Regions from separate parts of the Homo sapiens genome. Here region 1 is linked to region 2. The links come from fine-mapping of genetic effects on plasma protein levels. Region 2 holds a variant in brackets. A gene starts in the other region. All regions are shown on one strand. Distances are between the middles of the regions.

Region 1 (9,360 bases), 29 Mb before region 2:
TGACCCCTGGGCCAGGCACCCATGGCTGGCCATGCTTGAGGAATGTTGTTGGAATGATGTTAGATAAGTTGACTTGGTCAGTGTTAAAATTCCTCTATTGCAGATGAGGAAACTGAGGTTCAAAGAAGGGAAAAGACTTCTCCCTTGCAAAAGGGGTCAGGGATAAGATTTGAACCAAGTCTGTCAGCCACAGGCTCACAAAGCAAGACCCCTCTAAGCTCCAAACACTCACCAACGGTTACAGTTGTCCCAGTACGTTCCCAAGACTGGATAGATACGACCTCCATGCATACATCCTGTTGGAAGGGAAGAGAAGAGAAGTGGAACCAGAACCAGAGAGGATGGGCTAATTGGCCAGGTCCTTGGAGGTCAGGTACCTTGAACCTTTCCAAGATTCTCTCTCTTTCTCTCTCTCTGTCTCACACACACACACACATACCAGCTCTCACTGAAATTAAACTATAACTGAAGACATCACACACACACACACACACACACACCAGCTGTCACTAAAATTAAACTATAACTGAAGGCATCACACACACACACACACACATACCAGCTCTCACTGAAATTGAAGCCAAACTATAACTGAAGATATCACACACACACACACACACACCAGCTCTCACTGAGATTAAGCTATAACTGAAGACATCACACACACACACACCAGCTCTCACTGAAATTAAACTATAACTGAAGACATCACACACACACACACCAGCTCTCACTGAAATTAAACTATAACTGAAGACATCACACACACACACACACACCAGCTCTCACTGAGATTAAGCTATAACTGAAGACATCACACACACACACACACACACACACACCAGCTCTCACTGAAATTAAACTATAACTGAAGACATCACACACACACACACCAGCTCTCACTGAAATTAAGCTATACTGAAGACAACACACACACACACACACACCAGCTCTCACTGAAATTAAGCTATAACTGAAGACATCACACACACACACACACATACCAGCTCTCACTGAAATTAAACTATAACTGAAGACATCACACACACACACACACACACACACCAGCTGTCACTAAAATTAAACTATAACTGAAGGCATCACACACACACACACACACATACCAGCTCTCACTGAAATTGAAGCCAAACTATAACTGAAGATATCACACACACACACACACACACCAGCTCTCACTGAAATTAAGCTATAACTGAAGACATCACACACACACACACACACACACACACACACACCAGCTCTCACTGAAATTAAACTATAACTGAAGACAAATCCTGCAGGGTCACACACCAACTGCTGTTTGGGAAGTTCTTCAATGATTCCAACCTGGATTCCTCTTACTTTACTTGGATGCCAGCCACAACATTCCTGGGATCCTTTTCCATTTAAATAAGTTAGGGCTTGGAGATGGGGAGTGGGAGGAGCATGGGGAAGCCAAGGCCCAGAGAAGGTAAGCAACCGTCCTAAGATAACACAGCACTCTTGAGATGACAGCTCAGGTATGCAGTCTGCCGGCCCAAGCCCCATGGAACTGTGGGAAGGAACGCAAGTGATTCTCCTATTGGACAGGGGCAAGTGCATGGAAAAGGATGATGGTGAGGCTGAAAGCAGGAAAAGATTTGACCCATCTCCCAGGTATGAGCAGCCATCTCGGGGCACAGGATCCTAGAATCCTCAGCAAAGGCAGAAAAATGGCTAAGATGACCCTCACCAACCCATATGTGCCTTATCAGCCCAAGAGTGAGTCAGCAGGTGCGGCCAGCACCTTCCGTGTCTGGAAAAGAGACAGGATTGGGAGAAAATGTGGGAGGTTGCCCTTTCCCTGGGCCAAATTAGAATTCTAACCAAGGAGCTTCTTCAGTCTTGCTGGAGAGTAAAGTTCCCAGAGGGGCAGGGAAGAGTCCCAGATTCTACAGAGCTTCCCCTGGAAATGTCAGTGCATCCATCAGCTTTGCTCTTGAGCCTTGCTGAGTCTGAGGTGGACAAAGTGACCCACCCTCCTGGCCATCTTAGTGCCCACCTTGGATCGGGGGAAAAGGGGGTGGCACGCCGAGGCAGAAGTCCCAGAAGTCAGGGCAGCAGTCGGAGACCGTGCGGTTGCAGAAGAGGTCACAGTAACAGATGGCGCCCAGGTAGGGCAGGGCACAGTCGTCGGCACGGCCGCGGCAGCACAGGTCCTGCTCCTGGCAGTACCGGCCTCCCGCGTCCCGGATGCCCCGCAGGTGCAGACCCGGTGCTAGCTCCCGGCGCCCACGACCCTGCTGGGCACCCAGAGCCAAGTGGCCAGCCAGCGGCAGCAACAGCAGTAGCCCCAGTGGACATCGCCACATGGTGGCTCCTGGGCCCTGGGGGGCAGAGATGGTGGGCAGCAGAGACTCCCTGGAACACCAGGGATGAGTCTCCCAGTTTCCTGGAGCTGTGAGTTCAAGAGGGCCCAGCAGGGAGGGAGATCCCGATTCCTGAGTCCCCAGGCAGGACACGGGCAGAGGAGCCCCAGTGTGTGGGCCCTGGCTATAGGGGGATGGGGACTGGGCAGAAACGGAGCCCCTCCCTGACCTAGGCAGGGACCTTCAAGGACAAGGAAATGAGGGTGGTGGCATTCTTGGTGCTCCCACCCAACACTCATCCTGTGGACCCAAGGTCTTCTCTCCTGTCCTAGGTCTCTCTGCCCTCCAGCAGCCTCCATCCCTGACCTGGGTCCTTGACTTTGTGCTTTCCTGTCTCCCCCGGTCTTTTGGGTACACCTCTCTTCTGTTCCTGTGTCCCTCTGTCCCCCTCCACTGTCCCTCTCTCTGCCATCTGTCTTGGTTCCTCTACCTGCCCCCTCCCCCTGTTTCTTCTCTGTCTACACCTTCCGCCCTCTGAGCAGGGGAGCGTCCCTACCTGGTGAAGGTGTGGGCTGGGGCCCAGGCTGGCCCGCGCGCCTCCGCCTCCTGGCTCTGCGACCGCCGGACGCTCAAAGTCAAGAGAGGAGCGCGGGGCGGGGCGCTTTTTGTACCGCCCGCCCTCTGCACCGCCCCAGCAGTGGCGGAAGGGAGGGGCGCCTGGCTTGTACCTGGAGTAACTACCCCACAACTCATGGGCTTGCAGGGTGGAGAAACGACAAGCACACGATTGTCCTGGCTGGGTCTCCTGTGGCGGAAGCCGTTCCCTTAGGGGAACCCCAAGCAGGAAGGATTGCGGTTTCACACTGGGAAGGACTTCACAGTGGGCATCCCTGTGGAGCTGAGGGGCTCTGGTGGAGAAGGGGGGATATGGGCAGCCGAGCTCTGGGTTATGGACACAAGTTTGGGAAATGATGGGGAGGGCATGTGAGGCAAAATTCTGTAAGCCTCTCCTGACCCCTCGGTAATAAAAATAGCCATGCACACCCCTCTCCACTGTGCCCCCTAGGCTTGGGTGCCGCCCCCCTAGCCACCCCAGCTCCTAGGAATGATTGGAATTCCAGGAGTATGATCCTTAGGTGCCCTGGGCGGCTCATCCCTGGGAGGTGGGCAGGGTGTGGGGGTGGCCTCTGCACCCTTTGATCCCTTGTTGAGTCTGCCTTCCCTTGCCTGCTTGGGCCCCTAGACGAGCACTGCCCTCTCTAGCAAACCCAAGGGCATCCTGCTTGGCACCTGTCCCCCTCCAAGGGTCCAAAGGCAAGGGCCCTACCAGCTGGCACCCCCTGCAGAGGCCCTCCTTCCTGCCGCAGGCATAAACCTTTCTTTGCCCAGGCTGGCCTGGGACCCAAACAATGGGGCTTCTGTCCCGCCAGGTCTGCCGTCACCTTTTACCTCCCTATTGTGCAACGCCCTCTCTTCAACAGGTTGGGCCCAGGCCAGAGGTCTCTACCAGCAAAGAGGATAAAAGAGACTACACCTGGACAAACCCTCCCAGGCCCAGGCCTGAGCCTCACATGTGGCCCCGGGGAAGGCATCAGGGACTCCCTTTGCCCTCCCACTGACCTCCCTGCAAACCTCCCCCAAACCAAGGGGCATCCTCAGCTGGCCAGACCCTGGGGGAAGGGAGAGAGCCGAGGATCACCGGCACCTGTGGCTGGGTTACCCCTGCCATGGACCACTGGGTGGTGAGTCACCAAGGGGGTCCTGCCCTGGTGGTGGGGGTGGAGGGATAATATCCGGGGGCCCCAGCACTGGCACTAACACACCCAGGAGCTGCCCATCTGCTCCCTGCAGGGACCTGGGAGGACAAAGCCTAGGTGGGAAACTGAGGCTCAGAAGAATGCACTTGCCTGAGGTCGTGCAGCCAGAACACAGGCTCCCTGCCTGCCACCAGCCCACTCCTTTACCCCTAGTCACCCTTAGTCACCCACTACAGGTCTCAACGTGCTCCTGGTTGGGAAGTCTCTTTTCTTATCTAAACTCCATTCATCTTACTGCAGGACGGGCCCCTCGGTATTGGTAAATGTCATATCCTCAGGGTAAGAGATGAAAGCTGCTTTCTTTCAAAAGAGTTCGTGTCCAGAGTTCCTACTTTTATGGTACCTACTTTTTCATGGTTCTGGGGCTGGGGGCTTGTTTAGAGACATCTGGCCTCTCTTTTGCCCAAAATCACACCGCATAGGCTACCCTCGTGAGTCTGGGTGTGTTATCTCTGTGTGCATGTATGCATGTGTATATCTGAGTTGCGGTGTTTGTGGGGGTGTTTCTGCTTCTGCTTGAGTCTGTCAGTCCACATCTGATCGTCTGGGTTTTTTTTGCTTTTTGTTTTTTGTTTTTTTTTGAGACAAGGTCTCACTTTGTCACCCAGGCTGGAGTACAGTGGCGCGATCTCGACTCACTGAAGCCTTGACCTCCTGGGCTCAAGTAATCCTCCCACCTCAGCTTCCTGAGTAACTGGGACTACAGGTGCACACCGCCATGCCTGCCTGAATTTTTTTTGTATTTGTAGTAGAGATGGGGTTTCACCATGTTGCCCAGGCTGGTCTCCAACTCCTGAGCTCAAGCAATCCGCCTGCCTTGGCCTTCCGAAGTGTGTTTACCTGTCTATCTGCTATGTGCCTGTGTATCTGTGAGTCTGGATATTTTGGCTATCTGCCTGTCCTTGTCTGACTGATTGTCTGCTTGTCTATCCATTTACCTGTCCATCTGCTACATACCTGTGCATCTGTGTGTGTGTATCTGTCTGGATGTTGTCTCTGTGTCCATTATGGATCTGTCTGTCTGCCAGCGTGTGTTGTTTGCCTGCATTTGTGCACTTGTTGGCTTGTATGTCTGTGTGTGTGTCCTGCCTGTGCCTCCCTGTCTAAGAGGTGTCTGTGTATCTGTGTGGGAGTTGTGGCCATCTGCCTGTCCTTGTCTGCCTGCCTGTCTGTGCATAAGAGGCAGGGACTCAGAGCAGGGGATGGGAGCAGAGCCAGAGCCTCCCACCATCACTCAGCTTGGCACAGAGCCCGCCCCAGTGGAATTTTGTGACTCACTGGGTTCCTTGGCCGAGGAGGAAAAGGGCAGGGCCGGGGGTGCTGGACACCCCCACTTTCCTTTTCCATGACCCTTTGACCCTTTGCCTCCTAGTGACTCCTAGTGACTCATTGACTTATTATTATTTTTTTTGATGGAGTCTCGCTCTGTCGCCCAGGCTGGAGTGCAGTGGCGTGATCTCAGCTCACTGCAAGCTCTGCCTCCTGGGTTCAAGCCATTCTCCTGCCTCAGCCTCCTGAGTAGCTGGGACTACAGGCACCCACAACCAGGCCCAGCTAATTTTTTGTATTTTTTTTTTAGTAGAGATGAGGTTTCACCATGTTAGCCAGGATGGTCTCGATCTCCTGACCTTGTGATCCGCCCGCCTCAGCCTCCCAAAGTGCTGGGATTACAGGCATGAGCCACCATGCCTGGCCGACTCAATGACTTATTCTTGAGCAAAGTGGGGCCTTATCCAAGGGCCTGGGACAGAGCAGCAGAGGAGGAGACACCAGCGAGACTTCCCCCTCTGAGCCCTTCCGGCTTTTCAAGAGGCAGGTAGCCTAGGTCCCTGTGGTGGTTTTGTCCTCCCTTACTCCGGACCCCCGGCAGCGCAGCCCCTCTCTGGGCGTTGGTACCAACCTGTACCCAGATGCTCCCTGGAGGCCCTCTGGTATTCTCTTACTTTTACAGAGGGAGGTGAAGCCAGAAAGGGACAGTGACAAGCCTAAGAACACACGGCAGAGCAGAGGGCTCTCCTCTCTATGGAGTCCCAGAGCTCCCCACACCCCACAAACTTCACAACTGCTCTAAATGCTCGGAATCAGCCATTCTCCTCTGTGAGCTGAGCAGGGCTTTCTGGGAAGACAAAGACCTGTTGTCTGCTCACCTCAGGTCCCTAGCCGAGGACCTGATACTTGAGGCCTGGGAGTTCAGATGCTCAGGGCCCAAACAGCACCCCATCCAAGGCTGGGGCTCCTTGTGGTTCCCTGTGGTCAGTGGGACATGTCCAGAGCTCAGGTCAGTGCTCCCTGGGACTGCATCTGAGACCCTGTCCAGGCCTAATACTGTAGCCGGTTGGGCCATGTTGTGATATGTTGGGGCTTCCCAGGGCTCATGGACTGTTTTGTAGAAAGTCCCACATCAAGGGCTGCATGACAGTCAGAGTGTGGTGCTGTCATAGCACGCTGGAGCTTGCAGCAGACAAAATTCCAGGCCATGTGGAAGTGTGTTGCGCCACGCAATGGCATGCTTTACTATTTGATTTTCTCATTCATTCAACAAATACTTGTTAAGCATTTACGATGTGCCAGGTTCTGTGCTAGGTGCTGAGTGTACATTGTTGAACCAAACAGATGGAGTTCCTGCTATTGTGGAGTTTGCAGTCTAATGGGAAGAGAGGCCAGGCATGGCGGCTCATGCCTGTAATCCCAGCAGTTTGGGAGCCTAAGGCAGGTGGATTGCTTCAGCTCAGGGGTTTGAGATCAGCCTGGGCAACATGGTGTAACCCTGTCTCTACCAAAAATTAAAAAAATTGCCTGGGTATGGTGGCATGTACCTATGGCCCCAGCTACTCAGGAGGCTGAGGTGGGAGGATTGCTTGAGCCCAGGAGGCAGAGGTGGCAGTGAGCTGAGATTGTGCCACTGCACTCCAGCCTGGGTGACAAAGTGAGATTCCATCTCAAATAATGATGATGATAATAATAATAATAATAACAACGGGAAGATAGACAAATACATAAGCAAACCATCCCCCCGCCCCCCCACCCACAGATCAAGAAGTCATTCCAAAATGTGAAGCGTTCTGAAGATATGCACATAGCGTAAGAACCTGGTGTAATGTGCTGGTCAAGGCGGTCTCAGAGAGGAGATGACGTTTGAGCTGACACCTGAGGGATGAGAAGAAAGCAGCCATTCCCAGGGCCCAGGGGAGGCATCCCAGGAAGCCGGATCAGCATGAGCAAAAGCCCTGAGGCCTGGCACAAGTTGGTCTGCTTGAGAAGCAGGAGAGAGCCCTGAGCATCCGGAGTGCAGCAAGCGAGGTGCACAGAGGAGCAGGAAGGGGCTGGGAGAAGGCTGGGGCCGGATCATGCAGGACAGGCTGGAGGAAGGGGCTTGAATTGTCTTCTGACCACTGAGGGGATATAAACATGAGGGCAAAATCATCTGATTTCCATGTGCAAAGGCCCACTCTGGCTGCTCTAGAGAGAACAGATGATTGCAGGGTAAAAGTGGATTTAGAGAGGTCAGATGGAGGCTGGGTACGTGCCGTGTATGGTAGATAGCATGCTACCAAATACACTCACAGGTAGCCCTATTATCTCCATTTCACAGATGAGCAAGTCAAGATGCAGAAGGACTCTCTGGCTTGTCCAAGGTCACACGGCTGTTAGGAGCAGAGCAGCGTCCTGGTGCCCAAGCCCTGAGGTCCCCAGCACACTGCCTCTGCAATGGCCACAACTGTCCAAAGACTAAGCTGACTCTCACACCTGGTAGTGTCTGTGGTCATTCACTGTGGATGGAAGTGGAGAAATGCAGAAAACAGAAACACAGCTTCCCCTTTTCTGTCATATTTCTGTATCGTTGGTGTTTGGAGCCAGTTGAGCACAAAGGGCCCCTGAGTGCTGTTTCCTTGTGATATTTGGGGGTTAACAGCTTCCCCTCATCTCTTAATTACCTGCCCTCCTTCACTTCAGCTGCACATTCGTTAAAGAATGCTCTCCCAGGAGAAGAGCTTGGTGTTATCACCCACAAACATCTTAGAAAACTAATGCTATCCTTGAGTGCCTGTTTACAGAAACATTTTTACATCTCACTTGACATTTCCAGCAAATCTTGATCCTTCCAGCCAGGAATATTAATATATAGGTCTTGAAAAGTGCAAGAGGCTCTTCCATGGCTCCAAGCACATTTGACACTCTTCCTTTTCTGATCCCCAAGCAGACAGTGATGAAACCCCAATAGCTGGGCGAATACTCATCCAACAGGAAGAATCAGTTTTAAGAGCTGGGTTCTCAGGGTCAAATACTGTGGTGTGGCCTTTTGGTTGTAATGAGTTGAATGGAGGTCTCAAAAAAGATATATCCATGTTCTAATCCCCAGAACTTGTGAATGTGACCTTATTTGGAAAAAGAGTCCTTTTGGATGTAATTAAGTTAAGGATTTTGAGATAAGGAGATCATCCTGGGTTATCTGGGTGGACCCTAAATCTGTTGACAATGTCCTTATGAGAGACCCCAGAGGGCACAGACAGGAAAGGAAGAGGCAATGTGGCCCCAGAGGCTGAGATCAGAGCTCTGTGGCCACAATTCGAGGAACACCTGGAGCCACCAGAAGCTGGAGGAGGCAAGGAACAGATTCTCCCTGATCCTCTGGATACAGAGGGAGAATAGCCTGGCCGACACCTTGATTTTGGACTTCTGGCCCCCAGAACTGAGAAAATTAACTTCTGTTGTGTTAAGCAGCCACGTTTGTAGCAGTTCATCATAGCAGCCCTGGGAAAGAAATACAGTGGGCTTCCAGTTCAAGGAGGATCCACGAGGCCTGAGCTCCATCTGTCGATTGGAATCACCAAAATCAAGGTTGTGTGCGGGTAACGCCAGCACAAGCAGCTCATGCTGGCAAAAGCAGACCAAACCGGCTCACGCAACGTCAAGTCATCTTGAAGTGGTTCACGCACCACAGTGAGTGGTATTGATTGTGGTTAAGAGCCAGGTTCAAGGAGGTTTATCACTCAGTAGCCAGGTAAAGCAGGTTCCAGGCCTGGCTCCACCACTCAACAACCGGGGAAACAGGGGTAAGCTTCTTAAATGCTCCGTGTCTCAGTTTCTCCATGTGTAAAATGAGGGCACTAATAACAGTCCCTACCTGCAAGGTGGTTGTGAAGATGATATGAATTCATATATGTAAGGCACTTGGAATTGACAATACTGACATA
Region 2 (9,400 bases):
TGCCCAGCTAATTTTTTTTGTATTTTTTAGTAGAGACAGGGTTTCACCATGTTAGCCAGGATGGTCTTGATTTCCTGACCTCATGATCTGCCCGCCTCAGCCTCCCAAAGTGCTGGGATTACAGGTGTGAGCCACCTCGCCTGGCCAGATTTGTTTTTTAAATGTCCTGTAAAAAGGCACAAGGAAGGTAGCTGTGCAGAGCTAGAAATGAAGATAGCACTCAAGCCACAGTGGTAAGCAAGAGTGGAAACCAAACTGCCAATGCAAGCCTTGGGCCTGGTCTCACGTCCACTGAGGGCTGCTGGTTAAGGCCAGTGAGAGACAAGAGTCATGGCCACAGGCCCTTTCTGAATGGGATCTGGAACTGGGCTTCCATCATAACAATAAGAGCTAAGAAGGGTCTGTCCCAGTCCATGAAGGGGAAATGGAAATCTCTGCCCACCAGCCTAGACATGGAGCCCAGAGAGTAAGCAGCCCAGACTAAGCCAGAAGGACACAGGGCTCCAGGAAAACAAGGAACCAGTGGAAGGTAGGATGCAACTGACTAGATCAAACACTGTGTGGAGGGCTTGTTGGAAGAGGTAGGTGGGATGGGCCATAGGCACAGAGGAAACTCAGCAGATGACAGAAGAAAGCAAGGCCACTACTAACTCCAGGAAAAATAAAGAGAAAACCTAAGCAGAGTTCACTACTTGACTCAGCAGAGAGTTATAGTACAAATTATAATAGAGACATCAACTTAAACAAAAATGAGGAAATTGCTCATTTGGGAAGACAGAAGAAGAGATGGTAGGGTGGGGCAGGGAGCATTGGATAAGAGCAAAACCCTCATTCTCCAGTAACATCTCACCATGTATAAAGCTGCTAAACCAAGGAGGAGCAGCAAGAGCACATAATTGAGAAGTATGGAGAGAGCTAAGACAAAAAAAAATGGGTGAAAGCTTTGAAAGAAGCTGACGCTAGGGCCGTAATGGAGGAGCAAAGGAGGGCCAGGGCTTGGTGAGTTCCACAGAGACAATAGTTTCTACAGATTCTACAGTTTCAGTATTTAAACTGTACTAACTTTGGGGGTTCTTTTTGTTTCTTTTATCTATGTATCTGTATTTCTTTGGTAACTATTAAAATAAAGAAACACACTAGAATTCCAAACTAAAAATAACAGGCTGAGGGCAGTGGCTCACACCTGTAATCCCAGCACTTTGGTAGGCTGAGGTGGGCGGATCACCTGAGGGCAGGAGTTTGAGACCAGCCTGGTGAAACCCTGTCTCTACTAAAAATACAAAAATTAGCCAGGTATGGTGGCATGTGCCTACAGTCCCAGCTACTCAGGAGGCTGAGGCAGGAGAATCACTTGTACCCAGGAAGCAGAGGTTGCAGTGAGCTGAGATCGCGCCACTGCACTTCAGCCTGGGTGACAGCGAGACTCCATCTCAAAAAAATAAATAAAAATAAATAACAAAGAAAAATACACATTCCCATCAAAAATCACCATTATCTGGGACATTGCAAAATACTTTGGACACATCATCAATTAAAGAAGGGATCAAAATGGAAACCACAAAATGTTTTAAATTGAATGATAATGAAAACACTGTCAATGAAAATTCCTGGATGTAGCTTACATGGTACGTAGAATGTTATAGCCTTCAGATCATATATCAAAAAACAAGAAAGTGACTTTTGCCAAGTGAAGAATCTACAGATGTCTTAAAGTTTCTCTTTTGCGCTGACCTGCAATTTCTAGTTTTCTTTGTTTTTTTTTTGTTTTTTTTTTTAAAGACGGAATCTCTCTCTATCGCCCAGGCTGCAGTGCAGTGTCACTACCTCGGCTCACTACAATCTCCGCCTCCCGGGTTCACACAATTCTCCTGCCTCAGCCTTCTGAGTAGCTGGGACTACAGGCGCCCGCCACCATGCCCGGCTAATTTTGTATATTTTTAGTAGAGATGGGGTTTCACCATGTTAGCCAGGATGGTCTTGATCTCCTGACCTCATGATCTGCCCAGCTCGGCCTTCCAAAGTGCTGGGATTACAGGCGTGAGCCACCGCACCCAGCTCTTTTTTTTTTTTTTTGAGACGGAATCTCTCTCCATCGCCTAGGCTGGAGTGCAGTGGTGCGATTTTGGCTCACTGCAACCTCCGCCTCCAGGGTTCAAGCAATTCTCGTGCCTAAGCCTCCGTAATAGCTGGGATTACAGGCACATGCCACCATGCCCAACTAATTATTGTATTTTTAGCAGAGACGGGGTTTCACCATGTTGGCCAGGCTGGTCTTGAACTCCTGTCCTCAGGTGATCTGCCCGCCTCGGCCTCTCAAAGTGCTGGGATCACAGGCATGAGCCACCATGCCTGGTCGGCAGTTTCTGGCTTTCTTTTTTTTTTTTTTTTTTTTTTGAGACAGAGTCTTGCTCTGTTGCCCAGGCTGGAGTGCAGTGCTGCAATCTTGGCTCACTGCAACCTCGGCCCCCCGGGTTCAAGCTATTCTCCTGCCTCAGCCTCCTGAGTAGCTGGGACTACAGGTGCCCACCACCACACCTGGCTAATTTTTTGTATGTTTAGTAGAGATGGGGTTTCACTGTGTTAGCCAGGATGGTCTCGATCTCCTGATCTCGTGATCCGCATGCCTTGGCCTCCCAAAGTGCTGAGATTACAGGCGTTAGTCACTGCACCCGGCCCATTTTCTGGCTTTCTAAGGAAGCTGCCTTCAGTTTTGCTTGCGTTTCCTGTTGTTTCTCTCAGAGCCATTCTGCCCAGGAGAGCCCTCGCCCACCATGGGATCTTCTGTGAAATCAGTTGCCTGACCTGTACCGTGCCCAGGTGGCCTCGGGTGTGTGTCAGCCTCCCGGTGGTGGTCCCAGAGCCAGGGCCTGCCTCTTGAGATCACCTGAGGTGATGCATGGGAAGTGCTGAGCAGGGCACCTGCCTCTGGGGGGCCATGGATGGTCCTGCCATTGTGGCCATTGGGAACCAGAGGGTGAGAGCAGGTGGCCAGCAGACCACCCCACTCAGAGCCACAGCCCAGCTCCTGCCCACTCCCCACAGGGACAAAGCCAGGTAGGGCAGCAATGAGGCTGCCCAGCCTTGGACAGCCTGGGCCAGGCATTGAACCATCCCGGGAGCCAGGTGTCCACCCAACCCCACCTTGGGCTCACACCCAGAGTGTGACAGGGCCTGGCCCAGGTCCCAGGCTAGGGAGACAAAGCTGGCTCTCTCGGGCTCCCTTTCCTGCAGGAGACCCCTGGCAGCCCATGCCCAGAGACACAAGGACCTTGGAGGCTGAGGGCGCAGCAGCAGGATGTTGGGCCCGAGGGAGGGAGGGGCACAGAGGCCTCGACACCCTCAGCAGCCCGTGGCCTGGCTCTGAGGACGCATCCACAGCCTGTGGACAGCCAGGGGGACACTGGTGAGGCCCAGCCTGGGGGGCCGTGTGCTGAATTGAAGAGCCAGTGTGGGCACCCAGCCCTGCCACCCTCACCCACTGAACCCTGTCCTGGGGGCATCCTGTGCAGCCCTGGATTGTGCGCTGTGCTGGTCATAGCTGCCCGGGGCTGCAGCCACACCACGCCACGCCACGCCACCCCAGTCATTCGCCGCCACCTCCCTGCGTGCCCTCGGCACTTCACTGAGCCCGGGACCCCCAGGCCAGAGATCACTCTTGACTTAGCTGAAGCGGTTGTGTGTCAAACAGTGGGGACAGAGCGAGAGCCAGGGACCCAGCCGCGGCCTGGGCATCACCAGCATCCTCCGAGGCCCTGGCTGCTGTCCTTTACCCGGCACACAACACTGAGCACCACGAGGTGGGCACAGGGGACCCAATGGGGGCAGAAGGGTGCTGTCCTTGCCCACACAAAGCTTTCAGCCAGCACTTCTCGAAGTGGGGGACCATCCCCGCAGTGCTTTCCAGGGGCCCAAGCTGTGGCACTGTTGGTTGCAATGGCAGAACCTCATAAGTCATCACAGGCACTGTGGGACCCTGGTGCCAGGACTGGTTTCCCTCAACATGCTGAGCCAGGTGGCATTACCGCCACGTGCAGACCAGAGCATGCTGAGGCTCAGGGCAGCCTGGGACCTACTGGGGCAAGCGGCTGGTCGGGGCGGGAGGTCAGGTGAGGGCAGGGTGTGTGTGAGGGCCAGACCTCGGGGGCCCAGTGGTCCCAAGGGCAGCGGGGGCTCCTTCACGCAGGTCCTACCCTTCAGTCACCCACGGCACCTGCCCGCAGCCACCTTCCCGCTACTCAGAGGGGGTGCAGCCTCCAGGCTCAGACCAAGCCATCCCAGGGGCCCAACCCCTCACCTCCTGCTCTCCGCCTCTGCATGGACGCCCCTTGCCCCCATCCTCACCCCTCCCCATCAGCAGCAGGATACAGCCCCTCCCGCTGTCTAGGGCCATGGCCCCTCAGCCACCCTTCCTGAGAGCAGGATCTGCCCCACACTGGGCTCCCGGCACCACCCTTGGCCCCCTCAGGGAACCCCCACCCACCCCGTTCTCCTGCTTAAGGGTTTGAGGGCAAAGTCCAAGACGCTGCCAGGGACCCCTGCCAGTGTTCTGCCCTCCTCAGGCCCGAGGGCTGGCCTCCCCCTCCTCCTAGTGGGACTCCCGGTCACCCCCTCCTTGTCAGGGGCTGGCTGCCTTCCCAGCAACAGGCCGTGAGCTGACCAATGGCTGGCCTGGGCCTGGTGAGGTGCAGCTGTGCTAGGCCCTACTGCTGGCGGGACACAGGTCCCCAGGCCAGGTGCCCCTTGGCACTGTGTTTGGAGGGATGGCTCCCTCTTGGCTGGGGGCACTGCCCTGAGGACCCGTGCTGTCACCCAGGCCCCACGCGCCGCCCAGAGGCCCTTGCCCCTCTCGGCTCCCGGGGTCCCATTCCAGGAATGAAACTGGGCTGGGCCAGCCACACAGTGTGGGCGCCTGTGCAGCAGGCGGAGGGGAAGCACAGGGTGGGGCCAGGACTCCGAAAGGGAAGGGAGGAAGGGCAAG[G/T]GCGGCCGCGGGCACTGGGTCCAGCCCTGCCTCAGGGCCATCCTCAGCGCAGCATCCGTCCTGGTCTGTTTCTCAGGGTGGAAGGGCAGCTGGCACTGGGGGAGATGGCACTGCCTCCACCCATCCACCCCTCTAAGGCCCCCAGAGCTTCTCCCGGGGGTCTTGGGTGACTTAGGCCCCTTCCTCTGACATCTCGGGCCTGCTGGTGCCTGCTAGTGGGGGAGTGGGGTGGGCCTGACCCCACATCCTGCTTGGCCAGGCACCCACAGGCCAAGTGACCAGCACAGCCACCCCAGGCCTTGCCATACACTGCACCACCACGGCCTTCGCTCCCTCCCAGGCCCTGCCCATCCCCTGCCAGTGTGGGAGCCCCAGGTTGCAAAGGCCCGGGGCCCCTCTCTCCTCAAGGCAGGGCCCAGGCTCCTCGTAAGCCTGAGCCACACTTGGCTTCCCGAGCAGGCCCCTCCCGCCCCTGCCGTCATTTCTGGCAGGCCCTCTGCGTGAGCTCACGCGTTACATAAGGCATGCGAGCTATGTCTTGGGGGAATGAGAAACCCCTACACAGGGCTCTATGTCCCCTCGCCCTCTCCAGTCAAGGCCACCACAAGCCAAGGGAGGTCTGGGCGTGAGAGGTGAGACCCCGTGCTCCCCCTGCCCTGGGTGGAGGAAGGGGGTGCCCTGCCACCCTGAGAACAATGGTGTGTGCAGAAGAGAAGGGACTGAAACTCTTTGAAGATGTTCCAGGATTTAGCACCCAGGGAGCGGCGGAGACTCAGCCCCACCAGCCTCCGGCACGGAGGGAGGAAAGCGTTCCCCAGGCTGCTCAGGAGAACGTTTGTTGCTGTAGTGGGCAGTCACCTTCCAACCGGGGACAGTCACCCCCCTGCTCGGGGACAGTCACCCCCCCGCTCGGGGACAGTCACCCCCCCGCTCGGGCACAGTCACCCCCCTGCTCGGGGACAGTCATCCCCCCGCTCGGGGACAGTCACCCTCCCGGAATGGGGCTTCCTTTCTCGGGGCTGGGAATCACCCTGGATCCCTCCCCACTCGGGGTGCTCTTGGGCCATCTGAGGGCTCCTGGGTCACTCTTGGGCCTTCTCAGGGTTCCTGGGTCATTCTTGGGCCATCTGAGGGTTCCTGAGCCCAATGACACTTCTGCCTAGGCTCGCGCTGCGGGAGGAAGCAGCCAGGCGAGGTCCCCTCCGTGCCCCGGTGCAGCCTGGCCTGGGAGAGAGGAGCCCCCAGCGACACCGAGAGCCAAAACAGGGCAGAGTTTCTCAGAGGTGGCACCCGGCCAGGGAGCCCCTCGCGGCTACAGGGTTTCTCCACGGACTCGGCCATCTGGGGAGAGCAGCCCAGAGCCCTCGAGCCTCCTGCTGTATTCTGTGGCCTGGGACTTGGGGGGACCCATTGAGGACACTGGGACGCAGCCAAAGGGAGGTGCAGACAGTGTGTACTGGCGTTTCCGGGGACCAAGCCCAGAAGGAGCAGGACGGCCACCTCCTGGCCTGGAGGAAAATCCTGCTTCCTGGCAAGAAAACCACCCCTAGAGGAATAGGACTGGGGTGCAGGACGCTTTCTCAGGCAACCGCCCCTTTCCTTCTCCAAAACTGGGGCAGGAAAAGAGCATTCAGGCCAGGCAGCGAAAACCCCAGCTCTGGTACCTCCCGCCCCAGCAGAGGCCGCCTGGAGGCACGGAGTTCCGGCCTGGATGAGGCCTGGGAAGCCCAGCGACTCACAGGCCACGGCCGCTTCCCCTCTCCGAGGAAGGAAAAGTCCCTGCAGCGCGGCCTCGGCTAAGGCTCCGGTGCCCAAGCAAAGGAAGGGAGCGTGCTTGCAGACGCCTCCTGCTGGGAGCCTGCCACGCCCGCCACACCCTGCGCGGGGACAAAGCTCTCCGTGGCTGTGGCAGGGACACACCGCGTGTGGGTGGCTGCAAGCCAGCAGCCCCGAGCGGCCCCTCCCGCTAGACTCCCAGCCTGGGCCCTCTGTCCTCCAGGCAACGAGAACATGGATGCCTCGCTTTTCAGAGACTCGCGTTCTTGGAACTTACACCCTTTTGGGTTTGCTATTTTTACCCACCCTGAGCCTTCCGGTCTCCATGGCGACGCCTCCAAACAGCAGATTCCAGGCGGCAATGACGTCATCTCTCCCTTTCCTGCCGCCCAGGCCTTGGAGGTACTGCTGCCTGGGGCCGGGGGTGGGGGTGGGGGGGCTGCAGGGCTTCCCTGGCCCCCTCCCATACCCACCTGGTGCTCCCCCAACCAGAGATCCAAGGCCTGTGGGCCACGGCTGCGCCTCTCCTGACTCCAGCTTGCCCGTCTGTCCTTGGGGGCAGCGTCCTTCCTTCTCTCGGCCCCTTGGAGCAGCTCTGCGGGAACCCCACAGCAGCCCAGCGGATTGAACGCAAAAGACAGCCACCCTCCTGCTCCGGATCCTGGGAGGAGGCTACACGCTGGCGCTGAGACAGCAACCTGCCTGGCCTGGGAAGCCCCCCGCAGCCCCTACATCAGAAGCTTGCTCTTGGCGCAGTGGCTCACGCCTGTAATCCCAGCACTTTGGGAGGCTGAGGCGGGCGGATCACGAGGTCAGGAGATCGAGACCAACCTGGCTAACACGGTGAAACCCTGTCGCTCCTAAAAATACAAAAAAACAAATTAGCTGGGCGTGGTGGCGGGCGCCTGTAGTCCCAGCTACTCGGGAGGCTGAGGCAGGAGAATGGTGTGAACCTGGGAGGTGGAGCTTGCAGTGAGCCGAGATCACACTACTGCACTCCAGCCTGGGCGACAAAGCAAGACTCCGTCTCAAAAAAAAAAAAAAAAAAAAGCAGCAGCTTGCTCTCGGCCAGGCACGGTGGCTCACGCCTGTAATCCCTGCACTTTGGGAGGCCGAGGCAGGTGGATCACCTGAGGTCAGGAGTTTGAGACCAGCCTGGCCAACATGATGAAACCCCGTCTCTAATAAAAATATAAAAAACTGGCCGGGCACGGTGGCTCATGCCTGTAATCCCAGCACTTTGGGAGGCCGAGGCAGGCGGATCACAAGGCCAGGAGATGGAGACCATCCTGGCTAACACAGTGAAACCCCGTCACTACTAAAAATATAACAAAAATTAGCCGGGCGTGGTGGCGGGTGCCTGTAGTCCCAAGCTACTGGGGAGGCTGAGGCAGGAGAATGGCGTGAACCTGGGAGGCGGAACTTGTAGTGAGCCCAGATTGCGCCACTGCACTTCAGCCTAGGCAACAGAGCAAGACTCTGTCTCAAAAAAAAAAAAAAAAAAAAAAAAAAAAATATATATATATATATATATATATATATATATATATAAAATTAGCCAGGCGTGGTGGCAGGTACCTGTAATCCCAGCTACTTGGGAGGCTGAGGCAGGAGAATCACTTGAACCTGAGCGGCGGAGGTTGCAGTGAGCCGAGATCGCGCGACTGCACTCCAACCAGGGCAACAAGAGCGAAACTCCGTCTCAAAAAAAAAAAAAAAAAAAAGAAAGAAAGAAAAAGAAAAGAAAAGAAACTTGCTCCCAAGAGAGGCAGTGGCATGGCGGCAGGGGCCCAAGGAGCCCACAGATGGCCAGAGTAGGGGTATGGTGTACAGCACGGTCTGCTAGGCACCCGCCGTGGTGCCCAAGGGCATCCAGCCCCTGAGAGTGAGTCTGTCAGAACACCCTGGCCCCAGGTCGCACAGCTCTAGGGCTCCAGCCCGGGCAAGACAGGCGCTGCAGGGCCCGGCCCCACACCCTGGTCCCAATCAGGCATCTGGATAGGGGCAGCAGTCGCTAAGCCCAGGCCCAGGTCCCCCGCAGCAATCGCCAGCTTGCGTCCCTGTCTGGGACCACACTTTACCCAGCTGCCTCTGCAACGCCAGCCTGCAGTCTGCCCTCAGCCCAAATTGAGGATGGGGACACCTGGGGCTGGATGGCCACTGGTGACCAAGGTTGGGTGGGCAAGGCTACCCATTCCCAGGGTCACCCTCCAGGAGAAGAGCCCCAGCCCTGGTGCATGTGTGTGCTCTGCTGTGCATGCAGAGACCCACAGAAATGCCACAAGTCTTGGCAGTGTCTTGCAAAAGGGACTAGTGCTGCCCAGAAAGCTTCACAGCCCCCGGAGGGCAGGAGGAGCCCCGAGGAGCCACCCCCACCCAGCCCCCAAGGCCCCCTTACCTGGGGGGTTGCTGGGGTCTCATTGCCGAAGCAGAGCCTGTGACTAGATCAGCCCCACCCCCACCTGGCCTCCTCCCCAAAGCAGGCGTGGAGGGTAGGAGGGCAGGGTCTGGGGTGGGGGAGGCGGCAGGCAGGGCTGTGGGCGCCGTGGGGGGCTGGAGCTCTCAGCACAGGCTGGGTGAAGGTCACAGCCACCCCCTGTCCCGCCAGCACCCGGATGGGAAAAGAGGACCCTCAGCAGGTGTCCC

Alleles and levels. Alleles are on the strand shown, and positions count from the first base shown. The strength of an association depends on the size of the effect and on how common the allele is.
For the plasma level of the protein whose gene starts at base 2,985 in region 1, allele G in region 2 goes with a higher level than allele T (weak association).

What was found. PIP is the chance, under the fine-mapping model, that this variant and not a neighbour inherited with it causes the effect. The UK Biobank Pharma Proteomics Project read protein levels with antibody pairs (Olink). The fine-mapping took linkage between variants from a reference panel, not from the people measured, so its PIPs are less certain.
Region 1: it holds the start of TINAGL1, and the variant in region 2 is fine-mapped to the plasma level of the TINAGL1 protein (UK Biobank, PIP 0.99).

Annotation. Positions count from the first base shown.
Region 1 is chr1:31,570,140-31,579,499 of GRCh38, reverse strand. It overlaps TINAGL1 (tubulointerstitial nephritis antigen like 1), which reads right to left and starts at 2,985. Exons shown (of 12, transcript NM_022164.3): 1 at 2,905-2,985; 2 at 2,042-2,366; 3 at 233-296. The coding sequence starts at 2,351. It overlaps LOC105378626 (a long non-coding RNA gene), which reads left to right and starts at 1,603. Exons shown (of 6, transcript NR_188671.1): 1 at 1,603-1,656; 2 at 3,830-4,090; 3 at 7,197-7,465; 4 at 7,758-9,219. RefSeq lists an enhancer at 2,454-3,174.
Region 2 is chr1:2,210,305-2,219,704 of GRCh38, reverse strand. It overlaps LOC124903823 (a long non-coding RNA gene), which reads right to left and starts at 7,314. Exons shown (of 2, transcript XR_007065358.1): 1 at 7,228-7,314. It also overlaps a transcript of FAAP20 not described here. RefSeq lists enhancers at 7,126-7,964, 9,287-9,400. The variant G/T (reference allele first, on the strand shown) is at 4,979.